Linked DNA regions of Homo sapiens: region 1 is linked to region 2. The links come from fine-mapping of genetic effects on gene expression. Tissue or cell type: T cells. Region 2 holds a variant in brackets; the other region holds the start of a gene. All regions are shown on one strand. Distances are between the middles of the regions.

Region 1 (8,261 bases), 41 kb after region 2:
GGGGGGCGGTGTGATGTCAGATACAATCTGCTGGCACGGATGGTGCCTGGCATTGGGCTCTGGTGTTGGCTGGTTGCCTCTTTCCCAGATGGGGGCTCCTGGCAACAAATTGGCCTCAGCTCCCCCCAATATACATCCTGCCAGAGGCCTGCGGAGCCCCGAGGCTTTTGCCTGACCTGAAGGGGCGGCTGGGGCAATAAGGCACACTGTCCCAGCCCCTCCTCTGGGCAGCTGCTCTCAGGGGGGGTCCTCAAGCTGCTCAGGCAGGGGCAGGGGTGGGATGGCCCAGCCTTCATAGAGGTGAGGCCTGGGAGAAGAGAGCTGGTCTCAGAGTGGGTATGGTCCCTCTGCAGCCTCCAGACCTCACCTCCAGCCCTGGCCTGCCTGGAACTTGGCACAGCTGACATTGGCATCAGCTGATGAGGGTCACCCAGCGTGCACGGGGAGAGTCTGGGCCCTGTCACTACTGGGACGCCCTTTGGGACAAATGGCACAGACTCACTGTAGGGGCAGAAATGCCTGAATTATCAGAGGCATAGAGAGCCAGTCAGGGAGGGCATCCTGGAGGAGGGGGCCTTTAATGGATGTGAAAACATGGATAGACAGAACAGAGGCAAGGGCAGTCCAGGAAGGGAGAGGCAGTGGTGGAGAGGAGGTGCGGGGCACTCAGATTTGGTAAGAGAAACAAAGAATAACATTGTCGATGATGATAATAATAACCACTACTGGCTGGGTGTGGTTGCTCATACCTGCGATCCCAGCACTGTGAGAGGCTGAGGCAGGAGGACTGCTTTAGCCCAGGAGTTTGAGGCCAACCTGGGCAATATAGGGAGACCTCTCTCTACTAAAATTAAAAAAAAGGCCTGGCGTGGTGGCTCACACCTGTAACCCCAGCACTTTGGGAGGCCAAGGCGGGCAGATTGCCTGAGCTCAGGAGTTCGAGACCAGCCTGGCCAACATGGCGAAACCCCATCTCTACTATAAATATAAAAATTAGCTGGGCATGGTGGTGGGTGCCTGTAATTCCAGCTACTCGGGAGGCTGAGGCAGGAGAATTGCCTGAACCTGGGAGGCAGAGGTTGCAGTGAACTGAGATCATGCCATTGCACTCCAGCCTGGGCAACAAGAGCAAGACTCCGTCTAAAAAAAAAAAAAAAAAAAAAAAAAAAAAATTAGCCAGGTGTGGTGGTGGGTACCTGTAATTCCAGCTACTGGGGAGGGTGAGGTGGGAGGATCATTTGAGCCTGGGACATTGAGGCTGCAGTGAGCCGTGATTGTGCCACTGCACTGCAGCCTGGGCAACAGAGCAAGACCCTGTCTCAAAAATAACAGGCCAGGCGCAGGGGCTCATGCCTGTAATCCCAGCACTTTGGGAGGCCAAGGTGGGCAGATCACTTGAGGTCAGGAGTTCGAGACTAGTCTGGGCAACATGGTGAAACCCCATCTCTACCAAAAATATAAAAAATAATTAGCCGGACATGGTGGCACACACCTGTAATCCCAGCTACTTAGGAGGCTGAGGCAGAAGAATCGCTTGGACCCTGGAGAAGGAGGTTGCAGTGAGCTGAGATCACGCAATTGCACTCCAGCCTGGGCAACAGAGCGAGACTCTGTCTCAAAAAACACCCAATAATAATAATAATAACAATTATTGCTGACCGAACATGTTTACATGCCAGGCGGGGCGTTAGGCCCTCCTGCTTGTCTCAGTGAAGCTTCTTGAGACCCTCAGGAGAACAGCGTTATTCTTATGACCACATGACTTGTAAGGAAACGGAGGCCCAGAGAGGTAGAGGAACTTGCCCACATCACACAGCATGATCGTCAGAGCCTGGCCTGCGTGAGGCTTGTCTGATCAAGAGCCCTATTCTTACTCTCCAGGATGTGACTAGCGTTTTGAAGGAGATGACTTCATTTATTCATTTACCAGACCAGCTCTGAGCATCTGTCGGTGCCAGGCCCAGTTCTAGGCCCAGGAGATCTCCAGAGAACAAAGGGGATGCCCTCCTGGAGGTGACATTCTAGCTGTGCTGGGAGGAAGGAAGGGAAGTGACCCTGGCTGGCCAAACTTCCCCCCAGGCTGCCCTGGCAAAGGACCAATTTCAGGCAGGGCTGGACCCTTCGGCTTCTGGGCCCACCCTTGATGTTTTATTTGAGGCTCTCCTGGGTGCTGGAGCTTCTGAGATGAATTTGCCATCTGTCCCCTACCTCCTGCCCCTGGAGTTCCCACTGGGAGGAGGGCTAACCAGGATGGGCTTCCTGGAGGCAACTGGAGTCCTGAGGATTAAAGAGGTACTGAGATGGAGGACAGCTGAGTGAGCAGGGGGGGACATTGGGGGCTATAAGGGGCAAGCGAGGCCAGGGGGCACAGGGAGAAGGGGACGGGAGGAGGGGGAGGCAGGCTGCACTAGGAGCACCTGCATGTCCAGATGAGGGGTCTGGACTGTGTGTCATGGAGACCCCAGGAGAGAAATGGCCCCTCCCCAGGATGAAGATATGTAGAGCAGTCCACACCTCTGAGCTCCAGGATCAAACCTACTTTTTTCCAGCTGTGCGACCCTGGGGAAGTCACTACACTTCTCTGAACCCCAGGTTCCTCATCTGGAAAATAACCCGGCAGCGAGGATTAAAAGAGGCCCATATATAACATGCTTAGCATAGAGCCTAGCACAGCGTAGGTGTGCAAGGTGTCCTGGGAGTGGGGGTAACAAAGTCACCTCTAGACTTTGGGTGTGCCCTCCGTACCTGCCCTGGGATCTGAGACCTCCCCAGGCTCCATCCCAGCTTCTTGCACACAGGTGGAGCTGTGAGTTTGGGGAGATGGAGAAAGGCCGGGAGATCAAGGCAGACTAATGATATTGTGGGTTCCCCCTGCCCTCCTGTGAGGTGGCCACGGGACAGTGTGTGGACTCCCCAGCTCCTTGCTGGGCTCCACTGGGCACTGTTCGAGGTCTAGTCAGGGCGTCCCAGGTCACAAGGGGGCATGGAGGAGGACACTTGTGGCCCTGGGCCACAGGGGACATTGGGCACCACATGTGAGGGTGTTTATCATGGAGGAGGTAGTGATTCCAGCAGCCGCCATTGATCCAGCACGTACTGTATGCCAGGCCCTGCCTTAGCGCCTGGCACAGAAACCTCATCTGGCCGCCTCCCCCGCTGCGGTGGGGCCTACCCCATCTCCGTTTCCTAGAGAGGGCCCTGCAGAGTGGCGAGGTAAAATGACTTGCCAAGCAAGGCAAGATCAGGACTCAAACCAGGCCTCTCTGTCAGAGCCTCCCATTTCCTCAGAACTCTCAGGAGGAAAGGGAGGTGAATTTTTCTGCACAGCTCCCAAAGGCCTTGACAGGGAGGTGGGGTTCAGCACACTACAGGAAAGAGTTTCCAGCAGCTGGAGCTATCCCCGAAGTGGAGGTAGTGAGCACCCCATCACTAGACATATGCAAGAAGAGACAGAAAGGGAAGCGTAGAGGGGATTGCAGTGTGGAGTGGAGGTTGGATGGGAGGACTTCAGAGTTCCCTTGCAGCTTAACAATGGCCTGTGAGGTGGCAGGGATGAGTCAGGGTATGCGTGTGTGGAGGGAGGGGTGGTGAGATGAAGACCAGGGAGAGGAAAGGGTGGACCTGAGGCCCCCATGGAGAAGGGACGGGCAGGATGTGAGTAATGGGAGAGGCAATCACCTATTCTCCTGGGCAATGCTTTGGGGGTGAGCAGCGGCAGACCAGGATGCCCCAGGGAATGGCCAGGTTTGGGCCATCTCTGGAAGTGACTGGTCCCCGGAGAGAGGTGGTGGGGCTATCTGCAGCTGAAGAAACGGGCAGGGCCAGAGAAACAATGCAAGGGGACTCCTGGGTTTTGGCTAAGTAGTTTTGGGGGAGCAGGTGAAGACGTGGGGATCCCTGGCCCAGCCAGGAGCTGCCCTAGTATAGGCCCAGCCCCAAGGGTTGTGTGGGGCAGTCTGGAGGTTTTGGCCTGGGAAGGGGTCGGGGGAAGGCTGTATAAAAAGCTTGAAAGTGCGGAACAGGTTGGTGGACCTGAACTCCACCTCCTCGAGTGGGCCCCCTGTATCCACACCCTTCCCAGTCCTGAGCCCAGAGTTATTCTAAACTCCCGCTGCTGGGAGAGGGGAACTGGGAACCACTAAATGGCAGAACAGCACCCTTTTCCGGCCATATCACCTGGGCCAGAAAAAAAAAAAAGAGGGGGCCCAGAGAAAAGCGGGCTGTTTCTGGGGCACCGCGGAGGCCGCAGATCAGAATCCAGCTTTTTACAATAGAGCGGAAGCGAACCTGGCTCAGGGCGATTCCGGGGCGGGCTAGGCCTGCGGGTCTCTCTGCCTGGTCCCCCGGGGCTTTTCTGTCGCGCGGAGGCTTCCTGTCGCGGGCCCTGGTCCCCCCTAGCCCCCTTCCGGGATGGGCGAGCTCCCGTCTTCAAGCCCAAGTTAATGACCAGGGACTTTGAACTTTTTGGAGATCTGCAAAGGGCTGGCCCCTCGGGGACAGTGACGCCCCCCACCCCCTCCCCTGAGCCCGGATCCTGGATTACCCCAAGCCACCGCCCGGCCTCCAGCCACCTCCCTGGCTCCGGCGCGGGGCCCTTCCTGGGACCCCTCCTCTCCCCGGTCCCAGCCGGGCGGCGCCGTTGGTACATCCCGGCCGGTCCAGGTGGTAGCGCCCGCGCGGCTACCGTAATTCCCCTACGTCCCGCGCCCCAGTTTGCGCTGAGTCGACTGAGCCCGTCCCGCGGCTCCCGTCCCCCTCTCCCCGCGCGCCCCATGAGGCTTTGGCAGTCTCGGCCCGAGCCTTAGAGCCTTAGACACCGGGGAGGAGACCCTGGTCCTGTTCCTAGGTGAGTCGCGGGGAAGTGGGAGCTGCGCTCCGGACGGGGGGTGGGACTAGGCGCCAGGACCCCCCTAAACCGATGGACAGAACCCGGATTCGAGATTCCCACGTAGTGCCAGGCCTGTGGGTGGGTACAGGGTCCTCACCAGCTGTATCTCCATTTACGTGAGGGTGGAATGGGTTCAAGCTCCCGCCCCCATCACAGTGTCTCTAGGGTGGGTCGGCTCGGAGATAGGGCCGTGAGGAGTCTATGGGACCCTGGCCCCGGTATGGGGGGTATTGGCGGGGCAGGGGGATCCTGGAGGGGCCCGGGCGCGCGGCGTGGCTGGGAGGCTCAGCCGATCCTCCCCATCTGGCCAGTCCCGGAGTCGGTCCCAGGCGGAAAAGCCCTCTCGAGGCCGGCAGGGGGCGCCAGAGGCTGCGCCTCGGGCAGTCTGAGCAGACCCAGGCACCCACTTAGGGGTGGGGGATGCGGGAGACCCGTGAATCCGGGGAGGCCCTGGCCTGCCTTGGTGGAAGTCTGGGAAATGGAGGCCAAGAGGTCCCCTGCAGATTCCTTAGTAACTCCTCAAGTTGAGGGAGCTCGGGGGTATTTTACCATTCTCCTGCCCTTTAGCCGGGGTCCGGGCACACACTAGGACCTGGCAGCCATCCCCAGATACTGAATTCTATGCCCTCTTGGCACAGGTGGGCAAATTGAGGCCCAGTAGGGGAAGGGTGGGGGAACGTAGGCTCCAGACCAGGTCTTCTGAAGCCCAGGCAGGTGCCCTCTTTCCCCCGCTCCCTACCAAGGAGGCTTCTAAGTTGCACCGGGGAAGGGCTTGCTAGTCCAGGTGCTCCGAAGACACACGCTGGGGTCTGGGGCTGGGAACTGCAGAGGCTGGGCAGGAGGGGATGTTCACAGACTGCAGCCCCTCCCTCTTTCTCTAGCACTGGGTCCCAGCCTTGGGCATACTAGCCAGGACCGCTCCCTGGGGAGGAAGGGGCCTTCCTGGCTTCCAGGGCCCGTGCGGTGGGCTTAGCCTGGGGAGAGGTTTTCTGTGTCCCTGCCATCTGCCCGGCACAGGGCAGGGCCTTAGGTCAGGCTCTGACTCCAGGTGAGCCTCAGAACCCAAGGGGTGATGGGTGAGGCCTGGGCCTAGGGGAAAGGAGGGTGGGTAGGCCGGGTGGAGCGTAGAGAGCCGCCTGGCAAAGCCACCCCGCCCTGGCTGGCCTGCCCATGCATGCAGTCTCCACCCCTGGATTTCTAAGGTGTTGGGTGGGGCCTTGGGACTAGCAGGCTCCCAGGGGAGCTTAGCCTTGGTGGGAATTCCTGGCAAGGACATCCCTCCAGCCAGAGAGCTCGGACTCCTGGTTCCAGGCCCGTCTGCTGTCGGCAGAGCCTGGAGCTGGCCCCAGACCTGCGTCCTTTCCTGGACAGGGAAGTCCCTCTCCCACCCAGACCAGGCTGGGGCCCCAGCTCGTTGTGGGGCAGGGATGCCTGGGGGATCCCTGGTTTCCCATCTGCTTTTCTGGGGCTGGGGGAGGTGATACTGAGGGAGAACAGCCGGGTGCGGGGGTCCTGCCTTGGAGACTCCATTATTCATCAGCCTCCGCATCTGGTTTCTGGGTATCAGTTTCAACAAGCCGGCCCTGACTCACAAGCCTGGAGCTGGGGCTGGGCTGGGGAGGGGCTCCCTCCCCAGGGAGTTGGGGGCCAGGACTTCTTGGGCCTGCCCCTGAGCTGTTTCAGCTCCCTGCTGTGGAGAGGAGGTGGGAATGCAGGAGCCTGCCCAGGCCCACCCCACTGCCCTGGTACAGGGGCTGGGGGCTCCTTTCTGCTCTGCACTCTTGCCCCTAAGGAACAGTCCCCCACCCTTGCTGAGTACCCAGGCAGCAGCCTCACTCAGGGATGGCCAGGGCCCAGGCACTCAGGTGACCTCTGGTGATCCGCCCTGACCCAGCCCTGGTGGTCTCCACTTGATGCAACCTGGTTACCCCACACCGGTGGGCTCCCCACAAGCTGGCTTTGGGATCTGCCGTGTCTTCAGGAAGGCAATCTCCAGGGCCCTGTTGCCCAAACCAACATTCAGCTGTCTTCAGGCCCCACGCCTGCCCTGTGCCTGAGGCACCCATTTCCCTACGTAGCAGCAGCTGGTGACTTTGGGGCAAGTCAGTTGACACAGGCCTTAGTTTCTCTATCTGTTAAATGGGGATTGTAACAGTATCTCCTCCTAAGAGTCTTTGAGAAGAGCGAATGGGATTCACTGCCTGGAACTCCCACGATGGGGTGGCACATGGAATGCTCAGTGAAATGCAGTTATCTGCCTACAGGACAGTATGGGGGTGGAGGTCTGGGGCAAGACCACCCGATTTGAAGTAGGAACTCACCTGCCCAGGGCCAGCAGGCCCAAGGTCATGGATACTAGGAGGAGGAAGAGACCTTCGGTCTGGCAGTGGGGAAGGCTCTGTTGACTGTCGGCCACAGGAAGGGATATCCTGGCCGAGCCCTTTCCTGTCCCCATGTCCTTCTGTGGCATGAAGGCCCTTCTGCCTTCATCTGTTCACTGATCTCATCCCCACCAAGCGCACCTACTGTGCACCAGGACTGTTCTAAGTGCCGAGGACACAGTGAGATGCAGACGGCCAAGGCGCTGGCTTCTGGAGAGGACAGTCTGGTAGGGAAGAATGATGATAAAAAAGTGAACAAAGAAATGAATTACAGGTAGTAATAAACACTAAGAAGGAAATAATTTAACTTAAAGGAATTGAGAGTGGGAGGGTAAGGGTGGTTTATTTTAAGATGAGGGAAAAGGACGTCTTAGAGGTAACATTTAAGTTGGGGCCCGGTGTCAGCTGTTTCAAGATAGGGTGCGTGGAATTCCAGACAGAAAATACAGAGGAGAAGGCCCTGAGCTTGGCGAGCTGTAGGGAGAGAAGGAAGACCGGCAGGTGGACCCTGTGCGGACCAGCTGGGAGGGAGGCGGGAGCCCGGCCATGGTGGGATTTCACTATAAGCAAGATGGGAAGTTTTAGTTTTCAAAACTCTGCCTGTTGGCCGGGTGTGGTGGCTCATGCCTGTAATCTCAGCACTTTGGGAGGCCAAGGTGGGGGTGGATCACTTGAGATCAGGAGTTAGTGACCAGCCTGGTCAACATGGCGAAACCCCATCTCTACTAAAATACAAAAAGTAGCTGGGTGTAGTGGCGGGCGCCTGTAATCCCAGCTACTGGGGAGGCTGAGGCAGAAGAATCACTTGAACCTGGGAGGTGGAGGTCGTAGTGAGCTGGGATCATGCCACTGCACTCCAACGTGAGTGACAGAGCAAGATTCCGTCTCAAAAACAAACAAACAAAAAACAAAAACACAACTCTGCCTGTGGTGTAGACAGTGGGTGACCTGGGCTTTGGGAGTGGAGACAGCCCTGGAAGTCTCCCAGCCTC
Region 2 (8,000 bases):
ATTAGCCACCACACCTGTCTAACTTTTATTTTTTTATTTTATTTTATTTTATTTTATTTGAGACGGAGTCTCGCTCTGTCACCCAGGCAGGAGTGCAGTGGCGTGATCTCGGCTCACTGCAAGCTCCGCCTCCTGGGTTCACGCCATTCTCCTGCCTCAGCCTCCCGAGTAGCTGGGACCACAGGTGCCTGCCACCACGCCCGGCTAATTTTTTGCATTTTTAGTAGAGATGGGGTTTCACCACTTTAGCCAGGATGGTCTCGATCTCCTGACCTGGTGATCCATCCGCCTCAGCCTCCTAAAGTGCTAGGATTACAGGCGTGAGCTACCGCACCCGGCCCACACCTGGCTAATTTTTGAACAATTATTTGTAGAGGCAGTGTCTCACTTTGTAGCCCGGTCTGGACCATGCTCTTTTAATTATAACTGCTTTTGAAGTCAGAGAATGTGATACCTCCAACTTTTTTTTTTTTTTTGAGATGGAGTTTCGCTCTTGCTGCCCAGGCTGGAGTGCAATAGCACGATCTCGGCTCACTGCAACCTGTGCCTCCTGGGTTCAAGCAATTCACCTGCCTCAGCCTCCCAAGTAGCTGGGATTACAGGCACCCGCCACCATGCCTGGCTAATTTTTTGTATTTTTAGTAGAGGTGGGGTTTCACCATGTTGGCCAGGCTGGTCTCGAACTCCCGACCTCAGGTGATCCACCTGCCTTGGCCTCCCAAAGTGCTAGAATTATAGGTGTAAGCCACCATGCCCAGCTGACCCTGTCTTAAAAATAAACAAAAACAAGAAAACTTGGCTCTCATTATTCTGAACACATTAATTTATGTGTACAATATCCCTATGTATAAGCAGCCGCTCTGCCCTGCCGGCCACCTCCTAGGACCTGTCTGTCTACTGAGCTCCTCTTACGTCCTAGGTCCTGACTGCACCCTTGGCCTGGGCTCTCCAGCTGTACTGACCCTGGCTACTCCATGGCTCCATCCTTTTTTGAGCACTGTCTTAACTTTCAGGAAAAACAGGAAGTTCTGGGGTCATCTTTCACTTTCTCTTCCATAGCCTTGGAATGAGCTATTTTTCCAGAGAGCCCTGGCTCCTTTTCATGGAGAGAGATTGAAACCAGAGTTTCAGTACTGTGCACGCTTGTTGCCTCTGGTGTGTTATTGTTTCTAGATCCCCTCAGTGCACAGAGCTAGCATATATTGCATATTTAAACCCAAACATACATATGTATATGTGTATGTATGCATATAGATCTGTACTTCTGTAGATACCTTTTCTATCTGTCTCATTAAAACCAGGCACGGTGCTTCATGCCTGTAATCCTAGCACTGTGGCAGGCCGAGGCAGGCGGATCACTTGAGGTCAGGAGTTTGAGACCAACTTACTTGGCCAACATAACAAAACCTCATCTCTACTAAAAAAGTCCAAAAATTAGCCAGGTGTGGTGGCGAGTGCCTGTAATCCCAGCTACTTGGGAGGCTGAGGCAGGAGAATCACCTGAACTCGGGAGGTGGAGGTTGCAGTGAGCTGAGATTGCGCCACTGCACTCCAGCCTGGATGACAGAGTGAGACTCTGTCTCAAAAAAATAAAAAGAAAAAAGAGAGAAAGAGAGAGAGACAGAGAGCCATGAGTTTCCGACTCATCCGATTCTGGCTTAACACCCCAGGGGTCACTCTCGTTAGCCTTCTTCACTTTCATATTTGTAAGTTGGTTCTCTGGTGGGAAGAAACCTGCCTATGATTATTTACAATATATTTGCATATTTGCTCAGTCTTCTCTGAACTATACAGGCCACTCCCTCTGCTGCTGGCTACCCCACATCCCTGCCCTTACTGGCCCCAACCTTGAAAGGAGCCTCGCTGGCTGAATTCGCAGCTCCCATCATAGTGGCCACTCTGACGGTTGAGTGGCCTTGCTGCAATCACACTGACCCAGGCCATCTCCCTTCTGACCCTGTCACACACAGTCCTGGTCACTGGCCTGCTGACTGTGCAGACCCTGCCCTCATTGAACTGCTCAGCTCCCTGTCCCTGGCCAGAGGAGATATGTCATGATTAGGAGTGTGAACGCAGGAGCCGGCCCCTCTGGGTTTAAACCAGCTTGCTGTTTACTGACTGGCTGACCTTGTTCAAGTTGATCTCTTTCCCAATTTCCTCATCTGTAAAAATGAGGATACTACTACCTGCCACAGGGTTATGAAAATTAGAGGCTCTTGGCTGGGCATGGTGGCTCACGCCTGTAATCCCAGCACTTTGGGAGGCTGAGGTGGGTGGATCACCTGAGGTTGGGAGTTCAAGACCAGCCTGACCAACATGGAGAAACCCCGTCTCTACTAAAAATACAAAATAAGCCGGGCATGGTGGCACATGCCTGTAATCCCAGCTACTTGAGAGGCTGAGGCAGGAGAATCGCTTGAACCTGGCAGGCGGAGGTTGCTGTGAGCCAAGATCGCACCATTGCAGTCCAGCCTGGGCAACAAGAGTGAAACTCTGTCTAAAAAAAAAAAAAAAGAAAGAAAATTAGAGGCTATATGTGAAGGGCCTCTTAGAACAGAGTCATTGCTGTATTGCTATAAGACACACATGGCTATTCATTGCCCTTTCATTGGGATAGAAGCCCTGTGAGGGTGGGGATGTTTGTCTGTTTTGTTTACAGATATGTCCCAAATCACTGGAACAAGCCCAGCAGTTAGCAGATTTGTGTGTTCGCTGAATGAATGGCCATGTTAGGACATAATTGGCATTAGCCATTTATGTGAAAGTGAGCATGTCTTTGTGTTAAGTTGAAAGCTTAGATTTCCAAAAAATGGAATTAGAGTGTTCCTGTAGGTAGGATGGTCTCAGATTTCCTAAGGTTCTTTGTCAGTGATAACGGCTGAAACAAAACCCTCACCACCTTTTAAGTAGCCAGGATTGATCACTCACCTTACTCATCTGATTACTCATCTTTATCTTTTTAGGACCACCTTTCACTCACCTGAGGACTCCACAGAAGATGGTATATTATGGGAAACCTTCTTGTAAAAACAACTATGAGAATTATATTGACATAGTGAAATATGTGTTCAGCGCTTACAAGAGAGAGTCCCCTCTCATCGTCAACACTATGGGATGGGTTTCAGGTAAGCCTGCATGTGCACATCTGCAAGGGAAGGACAGGCAGTGTGAGTACTGTTGGTTTCAGACATTCACGTTAAAGCCCAGTGTTTTGTTTTTTGTTTTTAATTGAGGCAGGGTCTCACTCTGTCGCCCAGGCTGGAGTGCAATGGCGTGATCTCGGCTCACTGCATCCTCTGCCTCCCAGGCTCAAACAATCCTCCCACCTCAGCTTCCAGAGTAGCTGGGACCACAGGCGTGTGCCACTCTGCCCAGCTAATTTTTGTAGTTTTAGTAAAGATGGGGTTTTGCCATGTTGGCCATGCTGATCTTGAACTTCTGGCCTCAAGTGATCCGCCCACCTTGGCCTGTCAAGGCATGCTGGGATTACAAACATGAGCCACTGTGCCCAGCCGAAGTCCAACGTATTGATGGTTTCTTTGTCTTAGAACAAATGCATCCATTTGTCGTAGGAGCATGTCACTGTTCTTGAGCGCGTCACTGTTCTTGAGTGTATCAGCTGTGCTAATGTCTCTTCCCCACAGACCAGGGGCTCCTGCTTCTCATTGATCTGATCCGATTGCTGTCTCCCAGCCACGTGGTTCAGTTCCGCTCTGACCACAGTAAATATATGCCAGACCTTACCCCGCAGTATGTAGATGACATGGATGGCTTGTACACAAAAAGCAAGACCAAGATGAGAAATCGACGTTTCAGACTCGCAGCATTTGCAGATGCTTTGGAATTTGCTGATGAAGAAAAAGAGAGTCCAGTTGAGTTCACTGGACATAAACTGATAGGTGTTTATACAGACTTTGCATTCAGAATAACTCCAAGAAATAGGTAACTAACCCTCATTTGGCTGAAGAATTATTTTTCCTTCCGTCGAAAAAGACCTGCCATTCTCAATTCCTCTAAAGGCCTGAGTCCTCTAAGATCTTCAGGTCCCTGTCACAGCTGTGCATGCACAAAGACGAACCAGTTGTTTTCTGAACTGTTATGTTCCCAGTGGAAATATCCAGAAGTGTCCCCTACCTCTGGCTGCCAGCAACTTTGACTTAAAGGAGAGTCTTTACACTTCCTGTTTTTCCAGTTGGGGTCCGTCAAGGGGGGGCAGTGTTGGAAAGCCCAGTACTCTGTGAAAATGTGACCTCTGTGATGACAGGTGTGGGAGGTGGCCGTTGAGGGTTAAATGTCTACTTACCTTGTTGTGATTTGCCTTTCAGAGAGTCACATAACAAAATTCTTCGAGATCTGTCCATCTTGAGTTACCTTAGCCAGCTGCAGCCCCCGATGCCCAAACCACTTTCTCCTTTACATAGCCTGACACCCTATCAGGTAATCTGAACTTACAGGAGAAATTGTCTTCATTTTGTTACACACTTGTGTGGTTTTCTGTGTGCTGGGCGCTCTCCTAACCACTACATAACTCCTCGCTCATTTAATCCTCAGAACATCCCAGTGACACAGCTTGTGTCGTTATTCCCACTTTACAGATGGGGAACCTGAGGTGTAGAGAGGCTGAGGGACTCAGCACTAGGGGCTGGGCTGGCATGCAGGCCCAGGCAGTTCAGCTCCAGTGACTGCTCTTAGCCATGGTTCTGTACTGAGGATAAGTGTGGGTCCGTGCTGGGTTTGAATGTCCCATCTGGTCGCAGGGGCTGCTCCAGCACTTCCACTTTTCCGCTGTAGAGCAGGGGTGCTACTGGGCCTCAGAGAGTGAACGTGTGGATTCAGGGAGCGTTCACAGTGGAACCTGGCACCCAGAGAACACTCTTAAAGTACTTCACATTAGCCGGGCGTGGTGGCTCACACCTGTAATCCCAGCACTTTGGGAGGCC[A/G]AGGCGGGCAGATCACGAGGTCAGGAGATCGAGACCATCCTGGCTAACACAGTGAAACCCCCTCTCTATTAAAAATACAAAAAATTAGCCAGGCATGGTGGCACGTGCCTATAGTCCCAGCTACTCAGGAGGCTGAGGCAGGAGAATCGCTTGAACCCAGGAGGCGGAGGTTGCAGTGATCTGAGATCATGACACTGCACTCCAGCCTGGGTGACAGAGCGAGATGCCGACTTAAAAGAAAAAAAAAAGAAGTACTTCACATTACTGTCATCAAAAGTAGATTCCACCACCAGAGTATTTGCAACTTGGAATCCAGGCTGCTAATAATTGTTTTGGGAGGAAAGCATGATAGTGTTAGGATTCGGGATGATGAAAAAACAAAACTAGCGGCAGGTAGCACTTCTGAAATGCTTACTCTGTGCAGTACTCTGTTCTAAGCCTGTGTAACTCCACTACTTACCGTGGTCCTGTTATTATCCCCATTTTACAGATGGTAAAAGCAAGGCCAGGGACTGGGAGTCAGCTTGCCCAAAATGGTGTAGTCAAAGTTGAGGCTAGGACTGAAGCCGCAGGACGCCCGACTCTGAGCCCAGGTCTGTGCTCTGCCGCACAGCATGTCCGGTTTTGAGCGCTTGCTCTGTGCCAGGCACTCTGCGAAGCATGGAGGGGCTCAGTGACTTCATGGCCACCCTGTGAGAGAAAGGCTAAGACGTGCTTCATTTACAGCTTTGAGCATTGGGCATTGTCAGGTGGAAGCATTTGCCTTAGGTCACATAGGCTGAAGCGGCAGACCTGGGCAGCAAGGATATGTTTCTTGGGCCCGATGGTGGTGTGGGCTCCAGGCCTCTGAGTTATCTCCCCTGGAGAGTCTAAGTCACTTTGCTAATGGGGTTTTAGTTTATGGGTCATTTATTCATCTGGAGATGCTCTTTAAGTGAATGTGAGATTTATCTGCCAATACTTAAATCTGTCTTGTATTACTTCACATTTATTTATTTATTTATCTTTTTGAGATGGAATTTCACTCTTGTTGCCCATGCCAGAGTGCAATGCCACGTGCTTGGCTCACTGCAACCTCCGCCTCCCGGGTTCAAGCGATTCTCCTGCGTCAGCCTCCCGAGTAGCTGGGATTACAGGCACGTGCCACCACGCCCAGCTAATCTTTTGTATTTTTAGTAGAAACGGGGTTTCACCATGTTAGCCAGGCTGGTCTCGAACTCCTGACCTCAGATGATCCACCCGCCTCAGCCTCCCAAAGTGCTGGGATTACAGGCGTGTCCTCTGCACCCGGCCCACATTTATTTTTTAAATTTAAGTGTTTTTTGTTTCTTTTTTTTTGGAGACAGAGTCTCTCTCTTTCACCTAGGTTGAAGTGCAGTGGCACAATTTTGGCTCACTGTAATCTCCACTTTGTGGGTTCAAGTGATTCTCAATTCTAGTACCTCAGCCTCCCAAGTAGCTAAGACTAAAGGCATGCGCCACCACACTTGGCTAAATTTTTGTATTTTATTTATTTATTTATTTTTAATTTTTGTTTTTGAGATGGAGTCTTGGTCTGTCATTCAAGCTGGAGTGCAGTGGCACGATCTCAGTTCACTGCAACCTCCGCCTCCTGGGTTCAAGTGAGTCTTGTGCCTCAGCCTCCCAAGTAGCTGGGACTACAGGCACGCACCACCATCCCTGGCTAATTTTTGTATTTTTAGTAGAGACAGGGTTTCGCCATGTTGGCCAGGCTGGTCTCAAATTCCTGACCTCAAGTGATCAACCCACCTTGGCCTCCCAATGGGTTGAGATTACAGGCGTGAGCCACTGCGCCCAGCCTAAAGAATTTTTTATTTTATTTTTTATTTTTATTTTTTATTTATTAATTTTTTTTTGAGACCGAGTCTTGCTCTATCACCCAGGCTGGAGTGCGGTGGCAGGATCTCTGCTCACTGCAACCTCCGCCTCCCAGGTTCAAGCGATTCTTCTGCCTTAGCCTCCCGAGTAGCTGGGATTACAGGCGCCTGCCACCATGCCTGGCTAATTTTGTGTTTTTTGTAGAGACAAGGTTTCACCACGTTGGTCAGGCTGGTCTTGAACTCCTGACCTCGTGATCCACCCGCGTCGGCCTCCCAAAGTGCTGGGATTACATGCGTGAGCCACTGTGCCTGGCTGTTTTTATTCTTTAGAGATACTTTTGAGTAGGCACTTTGGCAGACCTATCTTTAGATAGCTGGTTAATCTAGTTGTAGAAATTAAGTGGTCTTTCAAAGTAGCCATGAATAGAGTGAGATGCAAATTCATTTTCCAGGTCCCTTTCAATGCAGTCGCACTCCGGATTACCCACTCTGATGTCGCCCCTACCCATATACTATATGCTGTAAACGCCAGCTGGGTTGGTCTTTGCAAGATCCAGGATGACGTCAGAGGATACACGAATGGGCCCATCCTGCTTGCCCAGACTCCAATCTGTGACTGCTTGGGCTTTGGTGAGTCTGAGAGTAAAACATATCCATAAACCTACTGAAAAGGATCCACTGCTTCAACTGTAGATGACTGGTCTTGACCTTGTAGCTGTGTCTAAGCTACAGAGGTCAGAGAACCCCCACTCATCTATATAGCACGCCTTAGGGGCTGGAGGCCAGGAAGGAAGCAGCTATTTCTCTGCTTCGTCTGCCAGCTCCTGTAAATGTAGGCTTCCCAAGGGCCTGGGCTTGGCCCTCCTCTTCTTGCTCGACACTTCTCCCCTAGGCTGTCTCAGTCACTGCTGGGTTCTAAATCCATTTTAGGCGTTGCCTTTTTGCAGTGTCCTCCAACACAGCTGTTCGTCTGCGTTCCAAACCCATCTTGTCAGTGTGCATCTTCACTTGAGTGCCTGACTGGCATGCAGACCTGGGATCCCCAGGACCCTCCTGCCCTCACCCTCTCCTCCTTGCCCCAGGCTCGTACTTGGTCCATTGGAAGATTCACTCTGACATCCAGGTCAGACCCTGGCCCCTCCTTGGCATCCCCTAGCCTTCATTTGGTACTTTCAGCCCATTAGATGGTCTGGTGGCTTCTCTCTTCAAAATATGTCAG

The links. PIP is the estimated chance that this variant, and not a neighbour inherited with it, causes the effect.
Region 1: it holds the start of PLEKHG5, and the variant in region 2 is fine-mapped to the expression of PLEKHG5 in T cells (TOPMed, PIP 0.95).

What each region holds. Positions count from the first base shown.
Region 1 is chr1:6,487,030-6,495,290 of GRCh38, reverse strand. It overlaps PLEKHG5 (pleckstrin homology and RhoGEF domain containing G5), which reads left to right and starts at 3,624. Exons shown (of 21, transcript NM_020631.6): 1 at 3,624-3,654. RefSeq lists silencers at 4,334-4,413, 4,474-4,563, 4,974-5,333.
Region 2 is chr1:6,528,405-6,536,404 of GRCh38, reverse strand. NOL9 (nucleolar protein 9) reads left to right here. Exons shown (of 12, transcript NM_024654.5): 7 at 2,964-3,125; 8 at 3,645-3,942; 9 at 4,326-4,437; 10 at 7,234-7,411. Among named protein-coding and RNA genes, the nearest start is that of NOL9, 22 kb to the left of the region's middle. The variant A/G (reference allele first, on the strand shown) is at 4,941.